Regions from separate parts of the Homo sapiens genome. Here all the other regions are linked to region 5. Evidence: fine-mapped expression QTL. A gene starts in region 5. Each other region holds a variant in brackets. All regions are shown on one strand. Distances are from middle to middle.

Region 1 (5,137 bases), 39 kb before region 5:
CTTATACTCACAGTCACACTGCAACACTAACGACTTGCCTCTCATAATAATCAGGAAAATCCAAGAGAAGGTCACATCCTTGGGCCTTGGACAAGAATGAAAAAATTTACTGTGGAAATGAAGATTTCAGTTCAGCATTACAACTATCTGATTCATTATCTCCTCCCTGCCAAAGAAATAAAAGGACATTCATTCCCTTCACATTTTTTTGTTGGAGAGGAAATTTCACTCTTGTTGCCCAGGCTGGAGTGCAATGGTGCAATCTCAGCTCACTGCAACCTCCGCTTCCTAGGTTCAAGCGATTCTCCTCTTTCAGCTTCCTAAGTAGCTGGGATTACAGGCATGCACTACCATGCCTGGCTAATTTTGTATTTTTAGTAGAGACGGGGTTTCACTATGTTGGCCAGGCTGGTCTCGAACTCCTGACCTCAGGTGATCCGCCCGCCTCGGCCTCCCAAAGTACTGGGATTACAGGTGTGAGCCACCGTGCCCAGCTCCCTTCACTTTTTTCATCGGCAGAATGATTCAGTGTTTGTGGACTGACTACATGGTATATGTAGTTAAGAAATTCAAATCCATAATTATTCTATCTAGACACAGTTCAATTCAAAATATTTGCTGGTTTTTAATATAAATTCTACATTTTTGTGCTATATCAAAGGCATTTCATATGCTCATCAATGTGCTAATTTTAGATTCTTTTCTAAATGTGATGATTCAATTAATATGCATTATAAAACACTTGGCAAATGAATTTGAGGTGCTGGAGAGAGATTCATATTTGTACACAGATATTTTTTCACCACAAATTCATATGAACTTGCTAATTTGCTCTCCTCCTGTTAAAATACTAAACATTCCTGGAAATAATGCATTTCTAAAGATAAGCTACCCATAAGGCACTAAACTTTAATGTACCTTTTAATATACTTCCTTTTTTATTGGAATTTTGCTTTTAAGAAAATACTATCCAAAAGATACTTAGTTCAATGAAGTATAATGAGTCACAAATAAATGTTTGAAATAGCATCATTTTCCTGCCTGCCAGTTGCCTGAAAGCTCAGAAATGTAGTTAGTCCTTGGGCATTATTAATCAATTTTATTTAATTTTCATAACTTTCTTAAGGACAGTAGTTCTACAAAATGGACTGAGTCCAGCACTATTATTCAAAAGCAAAAGAGGGCCATCCTGAAGTACTTGTCATCCACTGCTTCTCCAGTGTTCTCCAACCACAAGAATCTTAACTGTTTAACATGTCACAGCAGAGGCTGTATTCATACATTTGGTTTTGCACTGGACAATCTCTTCAATGCAGTAGGCAGAAACAGAAAAAAGTTTCCTTCTTAACTTTCCCTGGCAATCCATTTTAAAGAGTTTTCTTGAAGAGCTCCTTATTCTGGCAAAGTTGTTAGCAAGTGGTCATCTGCTGTCCAAATTTGCTCACCATTCATCCCCTTCCTACCTTCCTACCCTAGAGCTGACATCCCCCTGATTTGGATGCCATGTTCCCTCTGGGAGTGGTTCCTGGATAACTTGCCTGCATTACAATGACTTGGTGGAGGAGGGGTGTGCTGGCCACACACACACACACACACACACACGCACACGCACACACACAGACACATACACAAACCCCACAGATTTCTAGGCCCCACTGAGTCAAAATTTCTGGGAAGGGTGCCCCAGGGATCTCCAGCCCAGGATGTTTTTATGCACATTAAAACTTGAGACTCACTGCATTAAACAGTTACAAACCCCCACTAAGCACCTGGCCCTGATCAGCTGAACTTTCCCTATTTAAAATCAACTCCTGCCTTGGCCTCTCTGAAGTGGAGGTGTTTCCTTTCTCCTCCCTCACCCTGCATCTCAAATATTAATATTTCATCTTTTTTTCTTGATATATCTTTATTCTATAAGACACCTTTTTTTTTCATGGCTTCAGCTTAATTTGAGCTTTAGCATTGTACCTTCAAATGTCCTCCATCCATTTCCACCAGGATACCCAACTGTTATTTTTCATTCAATACAATCCAAGGCTAAATGGATCTTTCCTGTAAAAACTGATAGCTCCAAATAAATTTATTTATTCATTCATTTATTCAATGTTACTTATAAAGCCCCTACTTTGTGCTTTTATGGACCTTACATTCTGCTAAGGACCAGGAATGGGGCAGAGAGGTGTAAAAATAATAAACAATTATCTACACAATTATCTAATAAAGATTGTGGTGACTGTGAGAAAGATGAAATACAGAAAACAATGAGAGTTATGCATTTTTTTGGCAAAAAAATACCTTATAAGTGATGGTGTATCCTCCATGATGTATCAGGAGACATATGTTATTGATTTGTTCAATTATTAATGATGTTAATCGTGATATTTGTTTAAGTTATATCGGTCAGGTTTCTCCACGATACTATTTTTCTCTTTATAATTGAAAAGTATCTTGTAGGGAAACTATGCAAATATACCATTGCCCACTAATTTTAGCATTTGAAGATTTTTTTCCCTGAGACAATTATTGTGGTGTTTGAAAGTGGCCATTTTTCTATTTCTATTTTTCCTTCTATAATTATTAGTTCAGCTGACATTCTTGCTTGAAAGCTGTTTAATTTTTACATGGAATTTTTAAAATTTAAGCTTTCAAGTGGACCTATTTTCTTTATGGTATCTAGGTTTCTCAACATTCTTTAAAAGGTCTTCAAACTTACTCATCATAAACAATTTTAAAATATGTCTACTGATCTTTTCTTCTGGTACTTCTGTGGTTAGTCATTTTTGGATAAATACATTTGACCTGTGTGGAATTTATTTTTTGTAAGGAGTGAAAGAAGAATATGGTCCTTTCTTGACCGCTAGGCAGAATGGCCTTTTTCCTTCTGCCTCAATTATAACTCGGAATTGACTCCAGTTCCATGAAATATACTTAACTTACTTAATTCCCAACTCTTCCCAACAAAGTGATCTGCCCAAACGAGGCACTTAGTACATATTTATTAAACACACATACTCTGGAAGCGATGGATAAAGTTACAGAGAATAGAGGAATTGG[T/C]AGCCCAGAGAGGAAGCAAGTATGCAACACTGGAATGAGGAAACCCTTGTCCAAACTGAAGAGCAGTGAAAGAAATGGAGAAGGACAAACAGTTATTGGGAAAGATTCTGAGGAAAAACCATAGAACTTGGAAGCTAAGTGGCTATAATGAGATACAGAAGCATAAATAAGCAAATATATTGTAAATGTTGGCATCTAAAAGAATTGGAGATGGTGATGCTTCTGACTTCACTATCAGAGGTGAAGAATTGTCTCTTTCATCTCCATGGATGGTACCAACATCCAATCACTTACACAAATATCTGGCAAACGCTGATATTAGCAATCCTGCACCTACCCCTTCCCTTAACCCCACATCCAATCTATCACCTGCATGTGCAGATTCAGATTCACCCTCCAAAACATCTCTCAAAACTGCAGGTTTTCACCGTCTTTGCGGGGAGGCTCCTTAATGTACACCCCACCCTTTTCTCTGCCTGCATTGCTAGAACTGCCTCCTAGTTGTTGTATTTGTTTCTATCTTGCTCCCCTTTGATTAATTCTACCTGGTGAAGAATCTACCTGTAGTGATCTTTTAAAAACCTGATTCAGATATTGCCATTCCTTTGCTTAAAGCCCTTGAATGATGTTCTATTGCTGTTAATATCCTATAACCTTAATAAGTCCCACAAAGCTGGGTCTGACCAGACTGCCTCCTTAGAGCCTTCTTTCACACCACCTCCTCCACTGGCTTCTTTCAGTTGCTTAGATGCACTATGCAAAGTCAATGCAAAGGCACCCCATCCTCAGTTCATACTTCCACTTTCTACCCATCTTTCTGGTGTTAGCTTAAGCATCTCTTTTTCAGGCAAGTTATTTTTGACCATCATCAGACTAGGTCACTCTCTTGATTACATACTCATGAAGAAACATCAAATAAACCCAAATCAAGGGATTTTCTAGGAAACAATCAGCCAATGCTCTTAAAAAGTGTCAAGATCATGAAAGACAGAAAGACTTAGGAACTATTGCAGATTAAAAGAGACTAAGGAGGCATAACAAATGAATTCAATGTATGATCCCAGAAAGGATCCTTGCCCAGAAGGACTTCGGTGAAATTTGAATAAGATCTGTAGATTAGACAATAGTATTGTGTCAGTGTTAATTTACTGATTTTGATGACTACTGTGGTTTTGCAAGGTGTTAATATTTGAGGAATCAGGGTAAAGGTTGTATAAAAACTTTGTGTACTGTTTCCACAATCTTTTGAAAGTCTAAAATTATTTTAAAATAAAATATTCTGTAAATGCTTGAATAGTACTTTTAAAAATCTTTTCAACAAGTAAAAGAATAAAAAAGTTTGCACCACTGACAGCTATAATATTTATTATCTGTAAACTATAGGAAACATTTGCATAACAGTAAGAAAAAGAGTAAAAATGGGCAAGTGACATGAGCAAGTAATTAAGAGAAATATAAACAGTTAAGTCACAAGAAATAAACATCTAAATTCACTAGTAATTAAGAAACTGAATTTAAGCCAGGTATTTAATGTATTTGATTGGTAAAATGTATATGATTGGTCCAACTCAATATGGATGAGGATTGAAAAAAATGTCAGTTTTTAAAATAATATGCATTCCTGTTGACTAAGCAATTCCAATTTTAAGATCTCCCCATAGATTTCCTTGACCATTTAATATATACACACACACTGCAGCATGGTTTTAAAATAAATAGCCATCAAAAGAGGAATACTTAAAATAAAGAATCTCTATAGCATATGAAACTGTTAGAAAGGACTTACATCTATTTGTACTGAACCAGGATGTCATCCAAGTTAGAGCATTAAGTGAAAACAGCTAGCTGTGGAATAACATATAAAATATAGCTCCATCCTTGTAATATGAATACAAATGTATTCATTAAGTATACTGGAATTTTTTAAGAAACAAGTCTGGAACAACATTTACTGAATTTTTCTCAGCTGTTCTCTCAAGGGTGGGATCATGAGGGACTTTCACTTTTTATTTATTCATTGCTGTACAATTTGTTATAAGTATGTATCACTTTATGTAATCAGACAAATTATACTTTTTTATAA
Region 2 (5,000 bases), 54 kb before region 5:
TTAGGAATTCATTATTTTTCGTCACCGTTTGAGGAACAAGAGACAGCAGCAGTGAAAGGAAATTCCTACAGCAAACCAGGTGCATCGCTTCCAGGTAAAGTGAAGAAACTGCTACCACAAAGGCAGGGAATTCTCTTTTTTATGCACTGATGTATCCTCAGCCTGAAGAATAGCATCCAGCTCATAATAAGTGCTCAATAAATATTTGCAAAATGAATGAATAACCCTTCCTTGATAAATCATAATGAGCTGTAAATGCTATTTCTGATCAAACAATATGCCTTATACTTACTGATTCTGTAAATCAAATCATACACACATATACTCATCATTTAATTTCATCTGATCACAAGGTTATAGGTTAGACAGAAATGTTAGCATAATTCCCATTTTAAATGAGAAAATTAAGGCTTAAAGAAGCTTTAAAAGTTGTTAGCTATCTAAGCCTTTATAAATAGAATAAATTCAAAGACATTTAGAGCAGAGGGGACCTCAGAGATTTTCTCCCATAAATCTTTCATTTGTAGATGAGGAACTAAGGCCCAGGAAGAATAAGTGAATTACAAATTATCATACAACTAATAATACAAGAGAATTCAAATATTTTGATTACACAGTAATTCTGAGATATAGGGGCCTTTTCCTTTTCACCAGGCTCACAATTCCATAGGAACATATGCAAGATCAGAGCAGAAGGTGAAAAAGAAATATTATTAATTGGTAACTTATTCAGAAACAAAAATTATTGGAAAAGTTTGGCTATCAATGGTGGAGAATAACTTCTAATTTCATATTTATTACTTAACTTTCTAAAAACAAGTGATTTTCCCAGGTAGGGTGAAGGTTGCCAACCATTCTCTAAATTTTCAAGTTCAGTAACTTGAATAAAATGCAGATCTCAATTTTTGCATACCATGTAAACTGCCTTTAATTTTGCCCTCGGTAGAATCATGGAAGGCAATTTTTAAAATATTGTATCTTTCAACTTCTTAAATGTTCTCAGGCTAAGCCCCTGACTAAGCTAGTGATATTATATGTGAAATAAGCCAGGCACAGAAACACAAATACTGCATGATCTCACTTACAATGTAGAAGGAATCTAAAATAGTTGAATTCACAGGGGGGCAGAGAGTAGTCTGGTAGCTATCAGAGTTCCAGCAGTTGAGGATGGGGGTGAGATGTTGGTCAAAGGATACAAAATTTCAGTTAGACAGGAGGAATAAGTTCAGGAGGTCCAGTGTATATGATGATTATACTTAATAACAATGTATTGCATAATTATGCAGCTTGGGTCTGGCACAGTAGCTCATGCCTATAATCCCAGGACTTTGGGAGGTCAAAGCAGGAGGATCACTTGCATCCAGGAGTTGGAGATCAGCCTGGGCAACATAGTAAGATCCCATCTCTACAAAAATAAAAAATTAGCTGAGCATGGTGACACATGCCTGTAGTCCCAGCTACTCGGGAGGCTGAGGTGGGAGGATCACTTGAGCCAGGGAGGTCGAGGCTGCAGTGAGCTATGATTGTGCCACTGCACTCAGCCTGTGCAACAGGGAGACCCTGTCTCAATAAAAGGTCTGTGAGGTAATAAATATGTTAATTGTCTTGACTTGGTCATTCCACAATATAAGCATATATGTATCAAAACATGTTGCATACCACAAATACATATAATTTTTATTTGTCAACTTAAATAAAATTAATAAATAATAAGCTAGCAAAAGTAATCGGCATGTGACTTTCAATTAAAAAAAAGAAGGTTCATCTTAGAAGATATAATTATTGATGACAGGACATCCTTTCAACTAGTAAGTTACCAGATTTATAGTAAGGAAAGACGAAGTCCCATTTCTGTTAACTCTTAAACTAGGATATGTCACTAACAAATATCTGTCTAATAGGAAACATGATACTCTGACATGGCTGTTTTGATGTAGCCACTTTTACTCAACATTTTGACAGCTCTTTTGTACATAGTGTTCTTAATAGCCAAATAAAATGTTTTTTAAAAAGAAATAATAAGTGCTATATGAAACTTGAATGAGTTTCCTGAACCTATCCCTGAACCTGAATCAGATCTTTCCTGTGTCTCCCAACTTGTCCCCTAGACTCAACCCACCAAATCAAATTTTTTAAATGTTGATGGCATGTTCTAGGTGCTATAAATGGAGCTGCACTGTAGTTCCTGCTCTCATAAAGCTTCCATTTCTGTCGGGGAAAATC[G/A]CATGAAAAAATAAATTATATTTAAGAAGAGTGAAACATGTATTAAATAGATTACTATGCTGGCCTTGGAAAGGAAATCTGATAACCCTGAGCCTCCTGCCCTCCCTGACCCTAAGCCTCAGAGATGGTGTTGGGATGCCTGTGAGTACATTAGTTGGTAATTTAAAAACTTGAACATTTAATGCTCCTAGAGACTGTGCAATTGGTCTGAATATGAAAACATTACTGATACCCAAACTGCCACATCAAAATAACTATGTAAATATTTTTCCAATTTTCTCACTTCAGAGGCCTTTAAAACACTTACGTTATAAATTTATTATAAAGAACAAAGGCATTTTCCAAATTTCCTTCTTCCAAATACACAGACGCCATCCTCTCCATCTCTACTCCAGACCTAAAGTAACGTCGTGGAGTGATGTCTTCACTGATGGTGATATTACAACCAAGCTTGCTTAGGGCACGGACTCGCTCTTCTGGGCTTAGGGAAACATCTGTATGGTCAGGCATAGCAGCTAACTTTTTCTGCAAAGCAAAATTTAAATCTCTGATTAACTGTTGATTATAGTAAGAAAAGGATATGACTAATATTATGGACATATGTTCTTTATGAGGAACCTAACACCATTACCTAAGGAAATCTTTTCATAAGTTAATGATATAATCAAAGTAAAGCATTTTTGCTTAAACATGCTTTATACAACAAAAATACATGGTTTATACAACAAAAAGACAAACCTCCAAGGTAAACATACAGTTTTATTGGAGTGGGATCTCACTTTAGGTTTCAGGGTATGCAAATGTTTCAGGTCATTTTAGGTAAAATATCATTGCTCCTCATATCCCTGTGCATGCTTCTATCTGGGATCATCTGAAGCAGGTCATAAGATGAATTCCTGCCATTGTAGGGTTCATGTCAGTCTACTCTGAAGGGTCTCCAAGGAGGTAACTTGGATTCAAGTTACTATAAAGATTCAATTCTATTCCAGAATAAGTGTTGTTTAGTAAGAAATTTTCAGGGCTTCTCTGCATCTTCATTGAGTTAAAAAAAAAACAACCCACAAGTAAGTCCTGGAGAAGCCTTTTCAAGCATAAGAATGCCCCTCCCATTTTTTTTAACATAAAAAGAATCTCAGACCTCCATATAATAGTAAGTACACTGTTAAATTAGTCCTTGACTAAGAAAATAATGATATGTTACTAAGAAATGTCAGTGATAGCAATTTGAATTTTATTAATAAAAACAGCATCTATACACTTTTGGTAAAGCATAGAACATATGCAATTCAGAATAATTATTCAATAAAAAGTCGGTGCTTCAGAAAGGAAATTTTCTCTGTTAAGTGCCACATAGCAAGTATCTTAGGCTCTGCTAGCCATATGGTTTCCATTGCAACTTGAATTCAGCTCTCAGCATGAAAGTCACCATAAACAATATGGATAAAAATGACCCTGGCTGTGTCCCCTAAATGTTTATTTATAAAAGCAAGTGGGTGGTTTGGCCCTTACACCATAGTTTGCTGACCCCTGCTTTAGACCAGCATGTTTCAAAGCATGGTCCATGTACTGGCAGCATCAGCATCAACTGGGAGTTTCTTACAAATGCAAATTCCTAACAGGTCTCACCTCAGACCTATAGTCAGGATCTCTGGAGTTAGGCAGGAGAATCAATGTTTTAATCCATCTTTCCAGAGGTACTTATGCCTGTACAGTTTGAGAAGCAAGGCTTTAGACCAACCCCTTCTACCATTGCTGGATGCTCCCAGAACAGAGTTAGTCTAGAGCAAATTTAGCTTCTCAAGGCCGCCTTGGTCAGTTAAGGGTAGGTTGCAAGTCTGACTACTGTGTGGGTGGAGCACTTCATTCAAGTCTGTAGAAAGCTATAAAAGAAGTCAAGGTAAGCATACTTTTAGTCTGGCCATGAATTACCGAGCCAACCTTCAGGGACAGGGTATAGTGAATTAGATATCTGGAGTTCTTCCAATGCCATCTGGTCTACTTTGGTGGTAATTTTATAGCCAATAGAACCTCAGAGATCTGAAATGATTCTTGGTCCTAAAGGTTTAATATGTAACCAGAGACCCATAAACTTGTTTCTCAAGGCTTCATTAAGTAAGAACCATACCATGTCCCTTGTACATTTTATTACGTGGCTTCCCCACATCAGAGACAGAAATTGGAGTTTCTGAACTTTGAGCCTCGGGCTTCAGTATATAGTCTTTTCAATTGAGATGTCTCAAAAGCTACAGCAATCCATCCACTTTTCCCTAACCACACTCGGCTATAGAACTCAACAGCACCAAAAGAAAATATTGTCATTTGACACAGATAATTGCTTCAATGACATCAGAAAAATGACTAGAAAAAAAATCTATGAAAATCAGAATGTTCTCTAAAGGGGGTTCCAGCCTCTCATATGTATAAAAGTAATGTATTCATATTTTACTACTACTTAGTCCACACTGAGTTATAATTATTTCTGTACAAGTGTATCTGATCCCTTATGAACTCCTTGGGGTTTTAAAAGGGATCATTTTCCATTTATCTCTGTTCCCTAGAATGTAGCATATTCCCTGCCACATAAGTGATGATTAATAGGTATATCAAATAAAAGACAGACGGAAGTGAGAGAAGGAAGCAACAAGAGATTATAATTAGTTTTTTTTCCCTGAAAATGAAAATTAGATTGATTTTTCCTCTTCTGAATGGACCTTCCCAAATTTAAAACTGATTTCAAAGATAAGCTGGAAAATAACCTAAAGTCTTCATCAATCTAT
Region 3 (5,137 bases), 34 kb after region 5:
AAAACCTACCCTTCAAGATGGTAGAATATATAATAGCATACAAAACCTCTATTTACCTAATAAGTACTTTAATTTACAGAAAAAAAATGTAAATGTAAGTGTCGGATTTAGTGCCAAGTGCAGGGAATCTGAAAAATGTATACTAGGTCTCTGCTCTCCGTAATTCTGCCTTCATGGGTCCTAGCCCCATCCCTCAGGAGGTTGTCCTAAGATCGTCAGTGTCAGATGCTTCACAATACGGCCTCACACCGTCCCTGGGAAAGGTTGGTCTCCTCCTGCTGCATCAGATGGATGATTTCATTGTACATACGGTGAGGAGCATCCAAACCCCAGATGAAATCCACGTGAGCCCATTCAGGAATATTCTTATGGTAGATGAGGTTGGTCACCTCAGAGAGCAGCATTTTCACGTCTTCTGGATTTGAAAGCCAGTCCTGACCTCCTGTCCACATTGCTGTAGGGACCGTCATATCTCTGACTCTGTACCTTACAGGAGTTGGCTAGAGAAAAGGAATAGTTCTTAACTCTAGGTAACATTTGGACTTTCAGGCTCATAATTTATGTTTCAAATAGACATAATAAACATGCCATCTGTTGTGGTGAAGGGTACATGGGTGTTAGAGCCACACAACTCTGTTAAGAATTTCTGTTCCCGCCCTTACTTTAAGGTAAAATTACTTAACATTATTGAACCTCAGTTTCTTCTTCTGTGACTGGGGATAATATCTGTAATAACTTGCTAGATCAAATGACAAAACACATAAAAACATGTAATGCCTTGTATTTCTTTTTTCTTCCTATTAAATATTTTGTAAATAAATTGTTTTTAAAAATAATGCCCCTGTTCTTTTAAAAGATAATTTCACAAACATTTCATGAAAGAAGAATTATATTCCACAGAGAAAAGCAAGGAATCTGCTGGGAAGGGCTCTGCATCTTCACAGTCTTTATGTGATCCCAGGCAGCCTTTGAGGCAGACCCGGCTTGACTGCATTTGCCAGAACCATGGCCTATGGCACTCAGGTAATTTGAGCTAAAGGGAAGTAAAAGTTAAATACCTGCTCCAATCCTTATTCCTCACCCTTCCCCACCAAATATACCAATTAGTATTCCTAATACCTGGGAACTTTCCGTATTTATGCAGTGTTAGTAGAATTAGCCTAGCCGGCTGAGCCCTTGAGATTAATCAGCATCCAGAACTTTCCTCAGAAGTGGTAAGGCCCATTTCTTACTCAGGAAATCCACCATGGAGTCTTGGCTCCAATCCTAGATGCTCTGGTTTCTCTTTGTGGCTCAGTTATGGCCTAATTTGGATAAGGAAGGTTGAAAAATTCTATGGGGCTAGTAATTTTTTTTGTCATCTTACAGGTGAAAAGATTGAACTGAATGTCATATCTCGCTCTGAGTTTCTGTGATTCTATGATTTTTTTTGTGTGTTTGTTTACTCTTCCCTTCCACTCCCATTTTCTGGTGCCTATTCTGCATGAATCAATTTCTCTAGAACTCAGTCCATTAAATGTTGATAAATTAAAGCCATCTTAGGGCCGGGCACAGTGGCTCACGCCTGTAATCCCAGCACTTTGGGAGGCTGAGGTAGGTGGATCACTTGAGGTCAGGAGTTTGAGACCAGCCTGACCAACATGGTGAAACCCCATCCCTAAAAGTACAAAAAAAAAATTAGCTGAGCATGGTGGCGTGCACCTGTAGTCCCAGCTACTCGGGAGGCTGAGGCAAGAGAATGGCTCAAAGCTAGGAGGCAGAGTTTTCAGTGAGCCGAGACTGCGCCACTGCACTCCAGCCTGGGTGACAGAGCAAGATTCTGTCTCAAAAGTAAATAAATATAATTAAAAAAACATCTTTGAACAGAAATACTTTCTCTAAAGACATATTTTGGGAAACAGTGAAGAAAGACTTCAAGAGAAGCAGCTGATACCAGAGATTGAGAGTTC[A/G]CTATCCAGGGGCACTGCACAGTTTGTCCAGTTTCCTAGCATTTTACATCTAGATAGACATATGGCAGCGGATGTTAATTTATGATGTGAGGGTCTCAAAGAAAGACTAAGCTGTGTCTAATCTGCCCCTTCCAGTATTGTTTCTATGGTAAATATTTATTTACATTCATACACATGATTACCAAAAATCTTCAGAAGATTTTATGTTCTAAAGGGCATACCTGTGCAATTCTGAATCTCCACACTTTGATATCTAATTTTAGTTCATAGCATTAGCTACATATTTTCTTGGGTAATGTAATAACATTTTTAAAAAATGTAACTTGCAAATTACAGATTCATTTAAAGTATAACTAGGGAGAATGCCTATGGATTTTCTAAGCCCAAAATTTTTATTTTCAAGGTAAAGAAATTGAAGCCTGAAAAATTAAAGCAGCCTCCCTCCTATTACAGAAGTTTATAGTGCAGAGGCAAAACTTACACAGCAATCCTCACTTGCCATTTAATGTTCCTTTTACTGTGCCATGAAACAAACTTACTGCCACCATCCCATTTTTTTTAATTCTAAAATAATCCTTCTAGTATCCACCATAGACTACACTCTTCTCTTGACTAAATCTACTTCATCTTGCTCCTGAGAAGCCCAGTACCTTGTTTAGGGAGACAGCCTCAGCTAAAAAGGCCTCCTACTCCATTGTAAAAGCAGAGAGGTTTCTTGGATCAGCTGTGAACTTAACCATTTTCAAATGGAGTCAAACATGAACCATTATTTTCTGCTTAAATTTTCATATTTTATTCCCATATCTAGAATAAACTGTCATTATAACGTCCCTGTCATACATTTCCAATGTATATATTTTCAGCAGATGGTATTTGATTTTCTTACCTGATTGCATTTTTCCAGATTTTTGGTCTCACTCCCCCAGTCAAATGCCCGGAGTTCACCAGAATTCACTGCCTAAAAGGAGACAAAAATTTACAAGGAATTCCAACGTCTCAGTGGATAAGCGTGGTGGGGTGGTGGAAATGTGCTACCCAGTGTGCACTCATGAGGGAAGGAGAGAGCAATGGTTGAGCTGCTCTTCCATTCAATGTTGGGATAAGCGTCTCAGGAAAATGGTAAGACAAGAATGAGGCCTTTTGAGAAGAAAGAGGGACTACATAAATTCTTGATCATTGCATTAGCAACTCCAGGAAGTGCATCTTCATTGTAATTAATGTGAGTGGGTATCCTCCACAACTGTGTGGGCTACAATGGGGAATCGTGCCCTGGAATTGTGCAATGTGGTGATCCTGGAAGATAGCAACCAAAATTTAATTGAACTTATAATTCTTCTCTGGTTTTGATGGTACAATTGCTCTCTCTCTCTCTGTCTCTCCCTACCTGTCAACAGAGAGAACTCTCTCCTTCCCCCATCCCTCTCTTTCACACACACCACATAGACACACAGAGGTGTGTGTTTCCTGTAATTGCAGGTAAAGTTTGCAGTGTGAAGGACTCCTGTGAATATCTCTTTTGACAGACCCCACATTAGCATTTTTGTTTCTACTTGACTGTATTGTTGGAGGAGCTGAAGAGAAGATGTAGAAACATAATTATCTCCAGCCACATCTTTGAGGTGTCTAGAGACAGAGAGAAGTCTCACTTGGATCATCTAAATTCATACTTTTAAGATCTAAAGAAGTTCTTAGGCTACTTCTGTCCTTTCTTCCCATTTCTTGAAAAGTTTCAGTGATCTAGATCAAATTCTCCATCAAAATAGCATCGACGATACTGCATTTCATCTTAGAATAAGTGTGAAATAATCCCTGGCTTATCTAAATGGTGTCCTTTGACTATTCTACACAAAATATAACAGGACATTTAGCAAAGACTGCAAATTCAACATTCTTACCTGGCTCCAGTGTAGAATATTTTGCACAGATGTTCCAGCAAGAGTGTGGGCAGCATATACACTTGCTCGGCTCTGTAACAAACCATGAGTATTCTGGGGGACATAGAAAAACTCACAAGATGTATACCCTGTCAAGACCAAATCTCCAGGGTGTCAGACTAAGAAATGGTAACATTATTAAGTTATCAGCAATTATCTATGAAACAAAAATATGTACATGCACGTAAATAAAATGTCATTAAATGTATTGCCAGACACCGGTATTTTTCATCTGAGAATAGGTTCTCATCAGAGATCTGGCCCCTAATTAAAAAAAATTTTACTAGTGATATTTAGGATGAGGGCTCTAGCATTGGGCCTGTATTCAAATCCTAGTTCTGCAGTTTAATTTTTAGGTGAATTTGAGTGAGTCACTTAATCTACTAAATCTTAGTATACTAATCTGCAAAGTGGGGATATTAATAACACTCATAGGCTTGGTATAGGTAATAAATTAGCCTGATACATAATATATACTTTTCATATCCTTACTATAAATCAAATTATTAATCTTAAAGAAGAAGAAAAAATATTCAGAATTAAGGAAATGTTGCCCCAGCTGCTGGGAGTGCTGCTGGCAAACAGCCCTCCACTCTCAGTCTGCTTTGAGGATTGCACCAATTGTAGGCAGATACATTGCCCAGTGCTACCCTGTTACTGGTATGGCTACATTAAATGACTGACTGATATGGTGTATAAAGACCCAACCCTCTCTTCCTAACTTGAGACGGTTCTGAAGGGTCATCCTATCTTCAAAAATCCCTGCAGGATCAACTAAGTCTCCTATTGAGACTGCATCACTACTTGACTTTTTCACCTACCTAGTCCTGTTTCTTTTCCTTCTCTAGGTATTATCCCTAGAGCAGGACCCAAATCATTGTTCACATTAACCTCCATCTCAGAGTATGCTTCCTAGGGAACCCACCCAGTGATACCAACTGGTAGCCTAAGCCAAAATGAAGGTCCCTGATGTTCCATCAAAGAACTTAAACTACAAACCTACAGGACCCCAGTGCAGGGTAGAGGTGGATGATGCATGACAGTTGTCTCTGTTGTCTAACATGTGCTAATTGCTCTTTTTAATTTAATTCACTGTAGTAAAGCTGCTTTCAGACCTCTTCCATCTATAATCTGTGATTTAATATCAGCAATGCCCTTATGTTAACCTTGTTTCAGTCCATACTGAAGCATTTCCCTTATTTCCTTACAGTTTGCAGAGAACTGAGTTACTGAGAATATATCATTACTCTGAGT
Region 4 (5,137 bases), 50 kb after region 5:
GTACTGCTCCTTGAAAAGCAGAGCTAATTCATAGGCAGTGCTCCCAGAGTCAGCAGTGTATGGGCTATTGGCAGCTGTATTTATGCCTACTTATAACTATTAATTTCATGCAAATTAAGGGGCAGGTTATTCAGAAATCTCCAGAAACGGGACAGTAACTTCTGGGCCATTGCCATGGAAAGGGGTACTAACTCGTGGGTCATTGCTATGACATTTGTAAACTGTCATGGTTCTGGTAGGAGTGTCTTATGCTAATGAGCAGCCGGGGCAACTAAAGGATGCCTTCCAGGCCACTGCTGGTTCTTGCTGTTTTTTTTTCACCACCTGCTGGTTTGTGCTTGTTTATTCACTGTATCCTGTTGGGACCAGAAAGTAAGTCCTGCCCTTCTCCTACCTCAGAACCAGTTCAAACTTGCAACTACTTTTATTCTATTTTGTTGAATTTACACCAATCGTACGAATTTTCTATTTTACTTTGTTTTTTTCCAGGCATAGCTGCTTAAAGGCAGAGCCCAATTCAATGGGCTTTAGTCTACAGACTCCTGAAGCCCCAGTAGTGTATAGGTGCTGGGTACACGCAGTGGGTGGGGCCCAGGAAGATCATCTCTGTCTGCCACTGCAGAGATTCCCCTCACCTCCAAACCAGAGGAATTCAAGTGGGACAGTCTCAGGGCCAGAAGGATGACTCCTGAGGACTGACACCAATGTGCTAACTACCTAGACAAACCACCTAATCATTGAATAGTCAAAAGAAACCTGATATTCAGCACCATGCAGATACAGAATATTTCTATTTCCTCTCAGTTTTTGAACCCATATAAGGAAGCTTCTGTAGAAAGGGTCTTAAATCGGTATAAATACATGTTAAAGTTCCATTTTCTGAGAGTTTGTTAGATAAATCTCTGGAACATGAACATTGCACATGATCGTCTTACTCATCTGGAGGTAGCCTCTCCTCTTTCTCACCTGGGAGGGTTTATTGCGTAGTATTTATAATTATAGACTTTGTGTTTAGGCAGTCCTGAATTTAAATAGTAGCTATGCTATTACATTGGTATGGCCTTGTTCAACTTGTTTAACCTCTTTAATCTCAGTATCTAGATTTGAAATATGTGAATGATCCTATCTACTGCACAGGGCAATGAAATTGAAATAGAATAGTATCTCTGCTTGTGTCATAATCCCTGCTATGGGATAAGTGTTACCATAGGGTGACCATTACTAAAACCCAGCTTAGAATTTGAAAAGCTACCAAAAAAAAAAAAAAAAAAAACCTCCTGGGAAAACTAAAGAGATGTACTGTCATTTATGCATTTTACTTGTAGGAGGTTCTGTGTAGCACTAACTCGGGGTCCTTTTATTGCTATTCAGCAAAGTACCAGTCCAGAAACAGGATAAAAAGAGTAGATTAGAATGGTATAAGATGCTACTAGAAGTGTGTGCCCTGATAGCAAGAAGCAAAGGCTGACACCTTTGCAATATGGAAAAAAAGAATAAAAGAATAAAAGGTACAGACAAAATGGAAATAATCAAGGGACTGGGGTGAACTTAAAAGGCCTTAATTACTTCTCCACTCATAGGATGAACCAAAGTGTTCAAGGAAAAGTTAAATTGTGTTTGAAGCTCAAAGAGATTAAGTCATTTGCCCAAGTTTACTAAATTTGTGTGAGGAGACCCCAGGTCTACTGACATCCAGTTTAGCATTCTTTCCAGTACAATTTGCTACTTCATCACTATGCTCTTCTAGTATGAATCACCACCATGTATAAATATAATACATAATGTAAATAATACACAGATACAAACGTTAACATGTTAAGTACCTCATTTCCCAGAAATCCCAACTTACAATATTCATGAATGCTTCTGGGTCCACAGCTTTAGTTGGCATATGTACTGAATTCACATTTCTCTGGAACATATACGCCACCAGAATCAGAAGCCACATTTCCATTCTGTGTGAGACAATCCACTGTCTTGACAAGGTTTCCAACATGGTCCAACATCTGCATTTATTTTTTCCTGCCAATGTAACAACTAATTCTAAAGTAAGAAGAATTTGTGGGTTTAAAAACTCTTCACATATTTTCCTGCTGCAATTCCCTCTTCCAATTCTGAAGCAAATTAGGCAAGCTTAGTTGGTAGGGAAAGAACACAAAGTAGGCTGGAAACATTGCCTAGGATGTCCCAATACTATCTGACTCCTCCCATTCCTCCCTCACACAACTTGTAATCCCTAATCCTTCAACTTCCAGGTGTGTAGAACTTTCTTTGATGTGACCTGGAATTTTGTGCATTTGATACAGCCTATTAAAACCCCTGTACTTTATCACCAGGTAATAAGGAGTGTAGGGAACCTCTTTCCTTCCACTCCTAGATTTTATCTTTCTTTGATAGATAGCAAAAGATGGAGTCTACAGAAAGCACTGAAAGTTTCTATAGTCATATTCTGGGTCTTCAATGATCACTGTTTTTTGGTTAAAGATAAGTGTTGTGATAAGTGCTTTTATTTAAAATATCTAAAATTT[T/A]ATGGACATTTTCTACTTTTAGGGATGGGTGAGAACATTGATTAGAAGAAAATGAATCTTCCATGTTTAGCCCATTTCGTCTAGTTCAATTAAATAGATATACACAAAATTTTTATTTTAAGTTGTAATCACTAGTTAATCACTGGGATATGACTAGATGGATTATCTAGTAAATAAATCATCAGCTATTGTGTATTTTAGTTTTTTATATATATTTATTATATTTTAAGTTCTAGGGTACATGTGCACAACGTGCAGGTTTGTTATGTAAGTATATAAGTGCCATGTTGGTGTGCTGCACCCATTAACTTGTCATTTACATTAGGTATATCTCCTAATGCTATCCCTCCCCACTTCCCCCACCCCACGACAGACCCCGGTGTGTGATATTCCCCTTCCTGTGTCCAAGTGTTCTCATTGTTCAATTCCCACCTATGAGTGAGAACATGCAGTGTTTGGCTTTTTGTCCTTGTGATAGTCTGCTGAGAATGATGGTTTCCAGCTTCATCCATGTCCCTACAAAGGACATGAATGCTTCCTTTTTTATGGCTGCATAGTATTCCATGGTGTATAGGTGCCACATTTTCTTAATCCAGTCTATCATTGTTGGACACTTGAGTTGGTTCCAAGTCTTTGCTATTGTGAACAGTGCTGCAATAAACATACATGTGCATGTGTCTTTATAGCAGCACGATTTATATTCCTTTGGGTATATACCCAGTAATGGGATGGCTGGGTCAAATGGTATTTCTAGTTCTAGATCCCTGAGGAATCGCCACACTGTCTTCCACAATGGTTGAACTAGTTTACAGTCCCACCAACAGTGTAAGTGTTCCTATTTCTCCACATCCTCTCCAGCACCTGTTGTTTCCTGACTTTTTAATGATCCCCATTCTAACTGGTGTGAGATGATATCTCATTGTGGTTTTGATTTGCATTTCTCTGATGGCCAGTGATGATGAGCATTTTTTCATGTGTCTGTTGGCTGCATAAGTGTCTTCTTTTGAGAAGTGTCTGTTCATATCCTTCGCCCACTTTTTGATGGGGTTGTTTAAGGGATAATATCCAGAATCTACAAAGCTATTGTTTAAAATAATGGGTTGCAGCCTAGTTATTTTCATGAACTAAATGTCTCAGTTCAACTGAATGTGAGGCAAATGTGAACAATCCCTTAGCATACTAATGATTGAGCAGGTCAGGAGGGTTGATTTATTTGTCGTTTTAAGTAAAGAATGTGTTAAAAGTTAAAAAAATATTACTTAAAGTGAAATATTTCTCTATTACATCAATTCTTCAGGGTTGAGCTAACAGCAGCCACACCAATATGCAGACTTTTGGAATGTGGTGGGTGAAGGAGCCAGATGCTGAAACCAGAAAGATAAGTCTGTCAGAACATATCTTCCCACATGACTCAGCCTCCTCCACTTTGGGCTGGTTGCATGGGTGTGAAGAGGTAAGTCTGCATCCTTATCTGGACCAGTGTGAATGTCACTAACACAGCTAATCTGATGCCAGCTAGAGGAGCCATTTGACCTAATTAGAAGAGCAGAGAAAACACTTATCCAACACTCTGCAGAGCCCTGTGTCTTCAGCACCCCATGAGTTCTCCCTCAAGGTAGGCAAGATGAGATTTCAGAAAAGAATATGGGCTCCCATCACTGACATTTTAGGATTTGTAAATGTTATATAGCCAGAAAAAAAGATATCATTCAGCTTTCATTTTCAGAAATGTGAAGACACATTAAATGACTTGCCCCACATTGCCTAGCTAGACTGTGGCAAGGCCAGAACTGAGATTCAGATATTTTAATTTGCTGTTTAGCATTATGACTACATGGGAAAATATATAACACTTCGATGTCCTCTTCTCCATCAAAGATGAAGCCTAACCTACTAACAGGAAGCAATTACATCAATCTCTGTGAACTGTCTTTTTAAAAAGTTATCTTCTGGATTTAAAATTCAGAATAATTCCCAATGATGTCATTATGAGTTTGACAGATACCATCTGTCAAATACCATCTGTCAGATACCATATTACTTTGCTGTAATATGTTCAGGTAAGATCAACTCCCGCATTAGATTAATATGCTTGTGAATACTGTAGAGACTTTTTTAGGAGAGAGTTTATGGCAATAAACTGATTGGTTCAATCCCCCACCCATTCCTTTTTATTTTATTCCTTTTATTTTTTAGCTTTCTGCAGCTGCAGCCTTGGGTACTGAGTACATTGCAGAGAAAATATAATTAAATTTGGCTCTCAAATTCCTGGGGAACTTTATAAGGTCATAACTGTCATTTTGGAAGCAGGCAAAGTCACTTCCCAAGTCAGCTCAAAGAGCGACATTTTGAGCAAATATTAAATAAGTGCAGTTCTTCCCCACTGCAGAATTTTACAACACCCTTACCACCTTAGCAATCCCCAGCCCATGGAGAGCATCAGAAACATGATAAAAGAGATGGGAGGGGGCCGGGCGTGGTGGCTCACACCTGTAATCCCAGCACTTTGGGAGGCTGAGGCAGGTGGATCATGAGGTCAGGAGTTTGAGACCAGCCTGGCCAACATGGTGAAACCCTGTCTCTACTAAAAATACAAAAATTAGCCAGGA
Region 5 (5,137 bases):
TTGGCTGCTGGTCAGTGGAGGTTGGCTGCATTTACAGCCAGGATCAAAGGATGCCACTAATTTTAAGTCCCTAGTGTTTAATTCAGATTAAACACTAGGTTTATTTCTTGACAGAAGACATTTGTCTTCTTGACAGTGTTATTTCTTGACAGAAGACATTTACCTGTGAAAGCTGTTTTCTGGAACTTCTTTTCTTTACCTGTCTTTGTAATTATAGGCTCAAAATTGCCAGAGGAAGAACCCTAAACACTTAAAAATATATCTGTTTATCCAACTTCATTCTGACAATATGCCTCCGTATTCCAATTTGACACTATAGTTTACGAAGTCCTCTTCCTTCACCTTTAATTCTCCTTTTGGCTTAGACTAGAGTTTCTCTACATTAGCACTCTTCTGAGCTGGGTAATTCTTTGCTCTGAGAGGCTGTCCTGTGCACTGTAGGATGATTAGCAGCTTCCCTGGCCTCTGCTCCCCACATTAGAGTACCATGCTCCCACTCCTAGTTGTGACCACCAAAAATGTCTCCAGACATTGCCAAATGTCTTTAGTTTCCAATAAAACGACGTTCTCCATTAAGCAACATAATTTTTTAGTGTATGTATGTCCCATATGACATTTCAGAAATTTATCTGAAATTCAAATTTAACTGAACATCTTATCTTTTTCGTTGCTAAATCTGCAGTCTATCTGGGGGCGAGATAACCCCTGGTTGAGACCCAATGGCCTAGAGTTAAATCCAAGTGTTTTACAAATAACAATGAGTCAACTGCTTTTTTCATTGGTTTGTTTTTTGAGCTAACCCTACATCATTTGCAATTATAATGAGTACTGTTCCTTTAGAACCAGATGTTGTCAAGAGATGCAGAATCTAATAAAATGAGTTTTGATCCTGATTGAAAGTTAAAGAAACATTTAGAGCTCAGTCAGGGAGGAAAGAGCTTGAAGAAGAAAGCTAGCAGCAACCTTAGGAGAGAAGCAATGACAGTGAAGAGTTCTGTCCACACAAATTAGTTGAAAGAGGTTACAAAAGAGGCTACCAGAGGTTACAAAATATTGCATAACAGAGTGAAGTACCCAATGGATATACCATTAATGTTTTTCTAAGTCAATGGGAAGACACTTAAATGTCTTAAGAGTCTACAGAAATACAAAATCAAACCAAGCCAAAGAGGAAGTCAGCTGCAATTTTAGTGGGTATTGCAGACTTCCCTCTCCTCCAACGGAAGAATTAGCTAATTCTTAAACTCCAGAGAGGCTGGCCTCGATGTCAACTGCATAGTGAAACATAAAATCTTTGAAATAATTATAAAAATAGCTCAGTATATCCACCAGTGGAGTAAGAAGAATTTCCCTGAATATTTATAAGCACAGGCCTAGTATCCTGGTCACTAGTTTCTGGCCACTAAGGAGCCTCAACTGATTGGGAAAATCACATCAATTGGTTTGAGATGGTTGAACTATTTCTTCCATGATATTATTGAGCAAATAGGCTTGCTGCCCCCTGCTCACAGAAGCCAATATCTGGACACTGGGTTTTGAGGAAAGAAAAACTTTATTGCAAGACAGGTCAGCAAGGAGACAGGAGGTGGGCTCAAATCTGCCTCCCCAGTTTGGAATCTGAGAAAATGTATGGCTTAGAGGGTGAGGGAAAGGATTTAGGAATGTTGGTTTGGCAGGGACTGATTGAAGGGCTTCAAATTTGACCACTAAAGGTAAGGTATGTTGAGGCAGATTTCAGCCCTGGATCTTTTGGGCCAATGAGCCCCTAGCTTCTGAAAGAGGTCCTGCATTTAGGTTCCCGTCATGTCCTTGTCTTCTTGGTTCCCAGGGGAGGGATCATTTGTTCTAGGTTCTGTTAGAGGCAAAAACATTTTTATTGTGCATGCCTGGGCTAAATGACTTACAGTTTTTGGCTCTGTTATATCTACAGAGTAAATTGACATTTGTTATCAACAAAGTACGGCCCATTTGGGCTGGTCCCATGGTTATAATGGGTGTGTGGACGGTCGAGTGTTTCAATTCTGGGAAAGTTTGATGTGATTGTATTCAGTTCAAGGAAAATGTGTGAATGATATCATATATAGCATATAAAATGTTTACAATATTTAAGAGATTGGGCATACTAGCATGTTTGATAAATAAATTGATGATGCAATTTAAAATGCATAACAGAGTATTTGATTTTAGACTTATGATTTTTAAATTGAATATTATAAAGTAATTTGGCTAAATGTGTGAATAGTATTGGAATATTTAAAACAACTTAAGATTTATTATGTTAGTAAATTTATTAGTTTACAAAACTGCATAAATAGCTGGAAAAGCGTTACTTGTTAGGCTGAGAATTTTGAAGATTATTTTTCAAGTTCTTTGCCAGACACGTGTGGCTCTCACAAGTAAGTTTGTTGGTCTCTAGCCTTTCTCAATGGCCACTGAAAACCAGATTTTGATTACGAAATGTCTGAAATACAGTATCTTGGTTTGAACCGTGAGTCCTTCCTGCCAATGTAAGAACTTTTCTTCCTCCCTTAACTTTGCTTCCTTCTTTCCTGCATGTTACCACTGGCAGAGCAAATATGACTCAGAAACCGGCTCCTCAGGGTTGTAACATTAGATGATACAGGCTTGGGTCGTTACACATGACACCAGTGCCTTTGTTTCATTGGGCTGGGCTCTCTGGAAGGTGTGCTGCTGCCTGAGCTGCTGGAAAAGCACTGACAGGTGTTTGCTAGAAAAGCACTCCTGGAGCTTGCCACCAGCTTGGACTTCTAGGGACTTTCCTCTCAGCCAGGAAGGATTTTGATATTCATCAGAAATACCTCCAGAAGATTCAAGGAGCTGTAGAGGTGAAGTAAGCCTGTGAAGGACCAGCATGGGAATCCTATACTCTGAGGTACATCACCTTTCTGAAAGCAGAGTTCCAAAGATGTTAAAAGTTACTCATGCTTTTCAGATGCAATTTTCTATCCCTGTTAATATATTTCTGTTTTGTCTGTTCAACTCCCTGGGGGAGCATTAAGTCAGAAAAAATAAAGTCCTATGTGTTATTCTTGTTGATATTCTTAATAGTTTAAGACAAAGTATTTTGTAATTCTAAAATATTAGCTAGATCTAAGTTGAGATGAATATAATACACATTTCATAGTATCTGGATGTTTGCAAGGATAATTTGGACAAAATCGAGTTTGAGTTGTGCTTTTCTCATGACAAACACTCAGAGAAAAAGAGAAAATTGTACTCAATTGGATTTTCTAAATATCCAAAAGATTGACTGCCTCTTTTATGGAACCACATGACCAGAGTAATGCCTTTCAGCTTGGTATTTGAAGGGAGATTCACCTTTAGTAAATATTAGTAAAGACTATCACTATGAAGAAGAGGAATAATAACATATTTTGATGATTTGATTATTTTCTTTTCACATCTGATAAATACTGAGGTACTTTTACTTGTATTGGAAGTAACTTATTAGAATCAAATGGATTTTTAATGATGTTTCAAGAAAGTACAAGCAAGGAATGTTTAGACAAGAGTACAAGAGGTGTAATGATGTCATTATACATAATTTACTCTCTCTCTCCTCTGACACAATTAACTGGTTAATCTGCATTTCATTGCAGATGCTCAGGGGAACCTTCTTGGATAGTTTTGATCTAGTATTAAAGACAGTTTATTTGCAGTTATTTCTAATGCCATGTGTGTATATATCTCTCCGTGTGTGCAAATGCAGTGTTTGATTGGTTTATAACTCTAGGTATGTCTTGCTCAGTGATTTTAGCCTCATGAAGGGATCATATACATGAAAATGACAAAACATATAGTGCTTTTAAATGCTACTCTGGTAACTCTCAAACTTTAGACTGCCCAAGTGTCAGGGAGAGAAGTTTGTTTGAAATGCAGTTTCAAGGGACTCCAACCCAGAGAGTCTGTTTCACTCAGTCTATGGTAGGATACAAAAGTATACTTTTTAAAAGGAGCATCCCAGGTGGTTCTGACATAGGGGTGATCTGTTTACCACCATCCTGAGAAAGAAAGACTGCCACAGGCCAGTGCTTTCCCGTTTTTAATGTCTATACAGATCTTCTGAAGGTCTTGTTTAAATGCAGATTCTTAGTTTGTAGACCTGGGTGGGACCTAAGATTCTGCATTTTGGTTGCTTTTTCAGATTGCATGTGGGAATTATATGTGATTTGGAAAAAGGAAAAAAAAAAGCCTAGTCTCATCCTCAGGTATTCTGATGTAGAAAGTTGGAAGTAGGACCTTTCATCTATAGTTTTAAAGAGTTTGAGACTCTTTAAAATTAAATAGTAATCTCTTAAATATTTAAACATAGCCTACTCATTTGTAATATATCATTTGCTCTGTGTTTCCTAAGGATAAAGATTGTGAGCTACTCATTAAGGACAAGAAAAAAGCCTGCTGGATCCCTGGTCCTATGTTGCCTGGAAGAATCTATTCAAAAAAAAAAAAAAAACTTCCCCCAATTTGAGTGCGGGAAGCTCCTCTAGATTGGGGACATAGGGTTATCATTTTTCCTTAGAGCTTTGCAGTGCTAATAGTTATGCAATATATATTTTTAAGAAAGAAGGAGAGAATGAGGGAGGATCCCAGAGAGCTGGTCCTGAAATCTGCACTAGAGGATAAGCTTAGAGCTCAGTGAGAGGCCCTAATTTTGAATAAGTAACTCCAACTGCGTAAGATGGACTTTTAAACAAGGCTGATTCATTTAAACCCTTATCAAAGGTATTTGTTCATAATATTTACAATAGCAACAAACATGTATTTAGGGCTTCTTATAGATTAGGCCCTATTTTAAGCACTTTATATATGTATTAACTCATTTAATACAGCAATCTTGTAAGAGTCACTTTTAGTATCCTTATTTTACAAATGAAGAAACTGAGGAAAAGGTAGTCACTGGCTCATAGTTACACAGTTGAAAAGTGCTTATTGGCTGGAGATTGGTGGCTAGGATGAGTCCTGTGTTTACTCATTCAAAGAGATTCTTCTTACATCACTGCTGAACTACTAAATTTTTCTACTACTTGTTATTTCAACAGATATGTCATGCTCCATAAGAGAATTGGTCTTAACCACTCTGGTGTTCTGCCACTGTTCTAACCAGGATGGTGCCCTG

Evidence for each region.
Region 1: its variant is fine-mapped to the expression of ANKRD22 in whole blood (TOPMed, PIP above 0.99).
Region 2: its variant is fine-mapped to the expression of ANKRD22 in whole blood (TOPMed, PIP 0.91).
Region 3: its variant is fine-mapped to the expression of ANKRD22 in whole blood (TOPMed, PIP above 0.99).
Region 4: its variant is fine-mapped to the expression of ANKRD22 in whole blood (TOPMed, PIP 0.98).

The regions. Positions count from the first base shown.
Region 1 is chr10:88,888,819-88,893,955 of GRCh38, reverse strand. All of the region lies in intron 1 of STAMBPL1 (STAM binding protein like 1), which reads right to left. Among named protein-coding and RNA genes, the nearest start is that of STAMBPL1, 11 kb to the right of the region's middle. The variant T/C (reference allele first, on the strand shown) is at 3,055.
Region 2 is chr10:88,903,191-88,908,190 of GRCh38, reverse strand. It overlaps STAMBPL1 (STAM binding protein like 1), which reads right to left. Exons shown (of 11, transcript NM_020799.4): 3 at 2,531-2,748. Among named protein-coding and RNA genes, the nearest start is that of STAMBPL1, 25 kb to the right of the region's middle. The variant G/A (reference allele first, on the strand shown) is at 2,224.
Region 3 is chr10:88,815,595-88,820,731 of GRCh38, reverse strand. LIPM (lipase family member M) reads right to left here. Exons shown (of 9, transcript NM_001128215.1): 7 at 3,845-3,916; 8 at 2,836-2,907; 9 at 186-500. The coding sequence ends at 231. ANKRD22 (ankyrin repeat domain 22) reads left to right here. Exons shown (of 6, transcript NM_144590.3): 6 at 1-836. Among named protein-coding and RNA genes, the nearest start is that of LIPM, 15 kb to the right of the region's middle. The variant A/G (reference allele first, on the strand shown) is at 1,950.
Region 4 is chr10:88,799,756-88,804,892 of GRCh38, reverse strand. It overlaps LIPM (lipase family member M), which reads right to left and starts at 2,163. Exons shown (of 9, transcript NM_001128215.1): 1 at 1,850-2,163. The coding sequence starts at 1,996. The variant T/A (reference allele first, on the strand shown) is at 2,529.
Region 5 is chr10:88,849,343-88,854,479 of GRCh38, reverse strand. It overlaps ANKRD22 (ankyrin repeat domain 22), which reads left to right and starts at 2,636. Exons shown (of 6, transcript NM_144590.3): 1 at 2,636-2,893. The coding sequence starts at 2,873.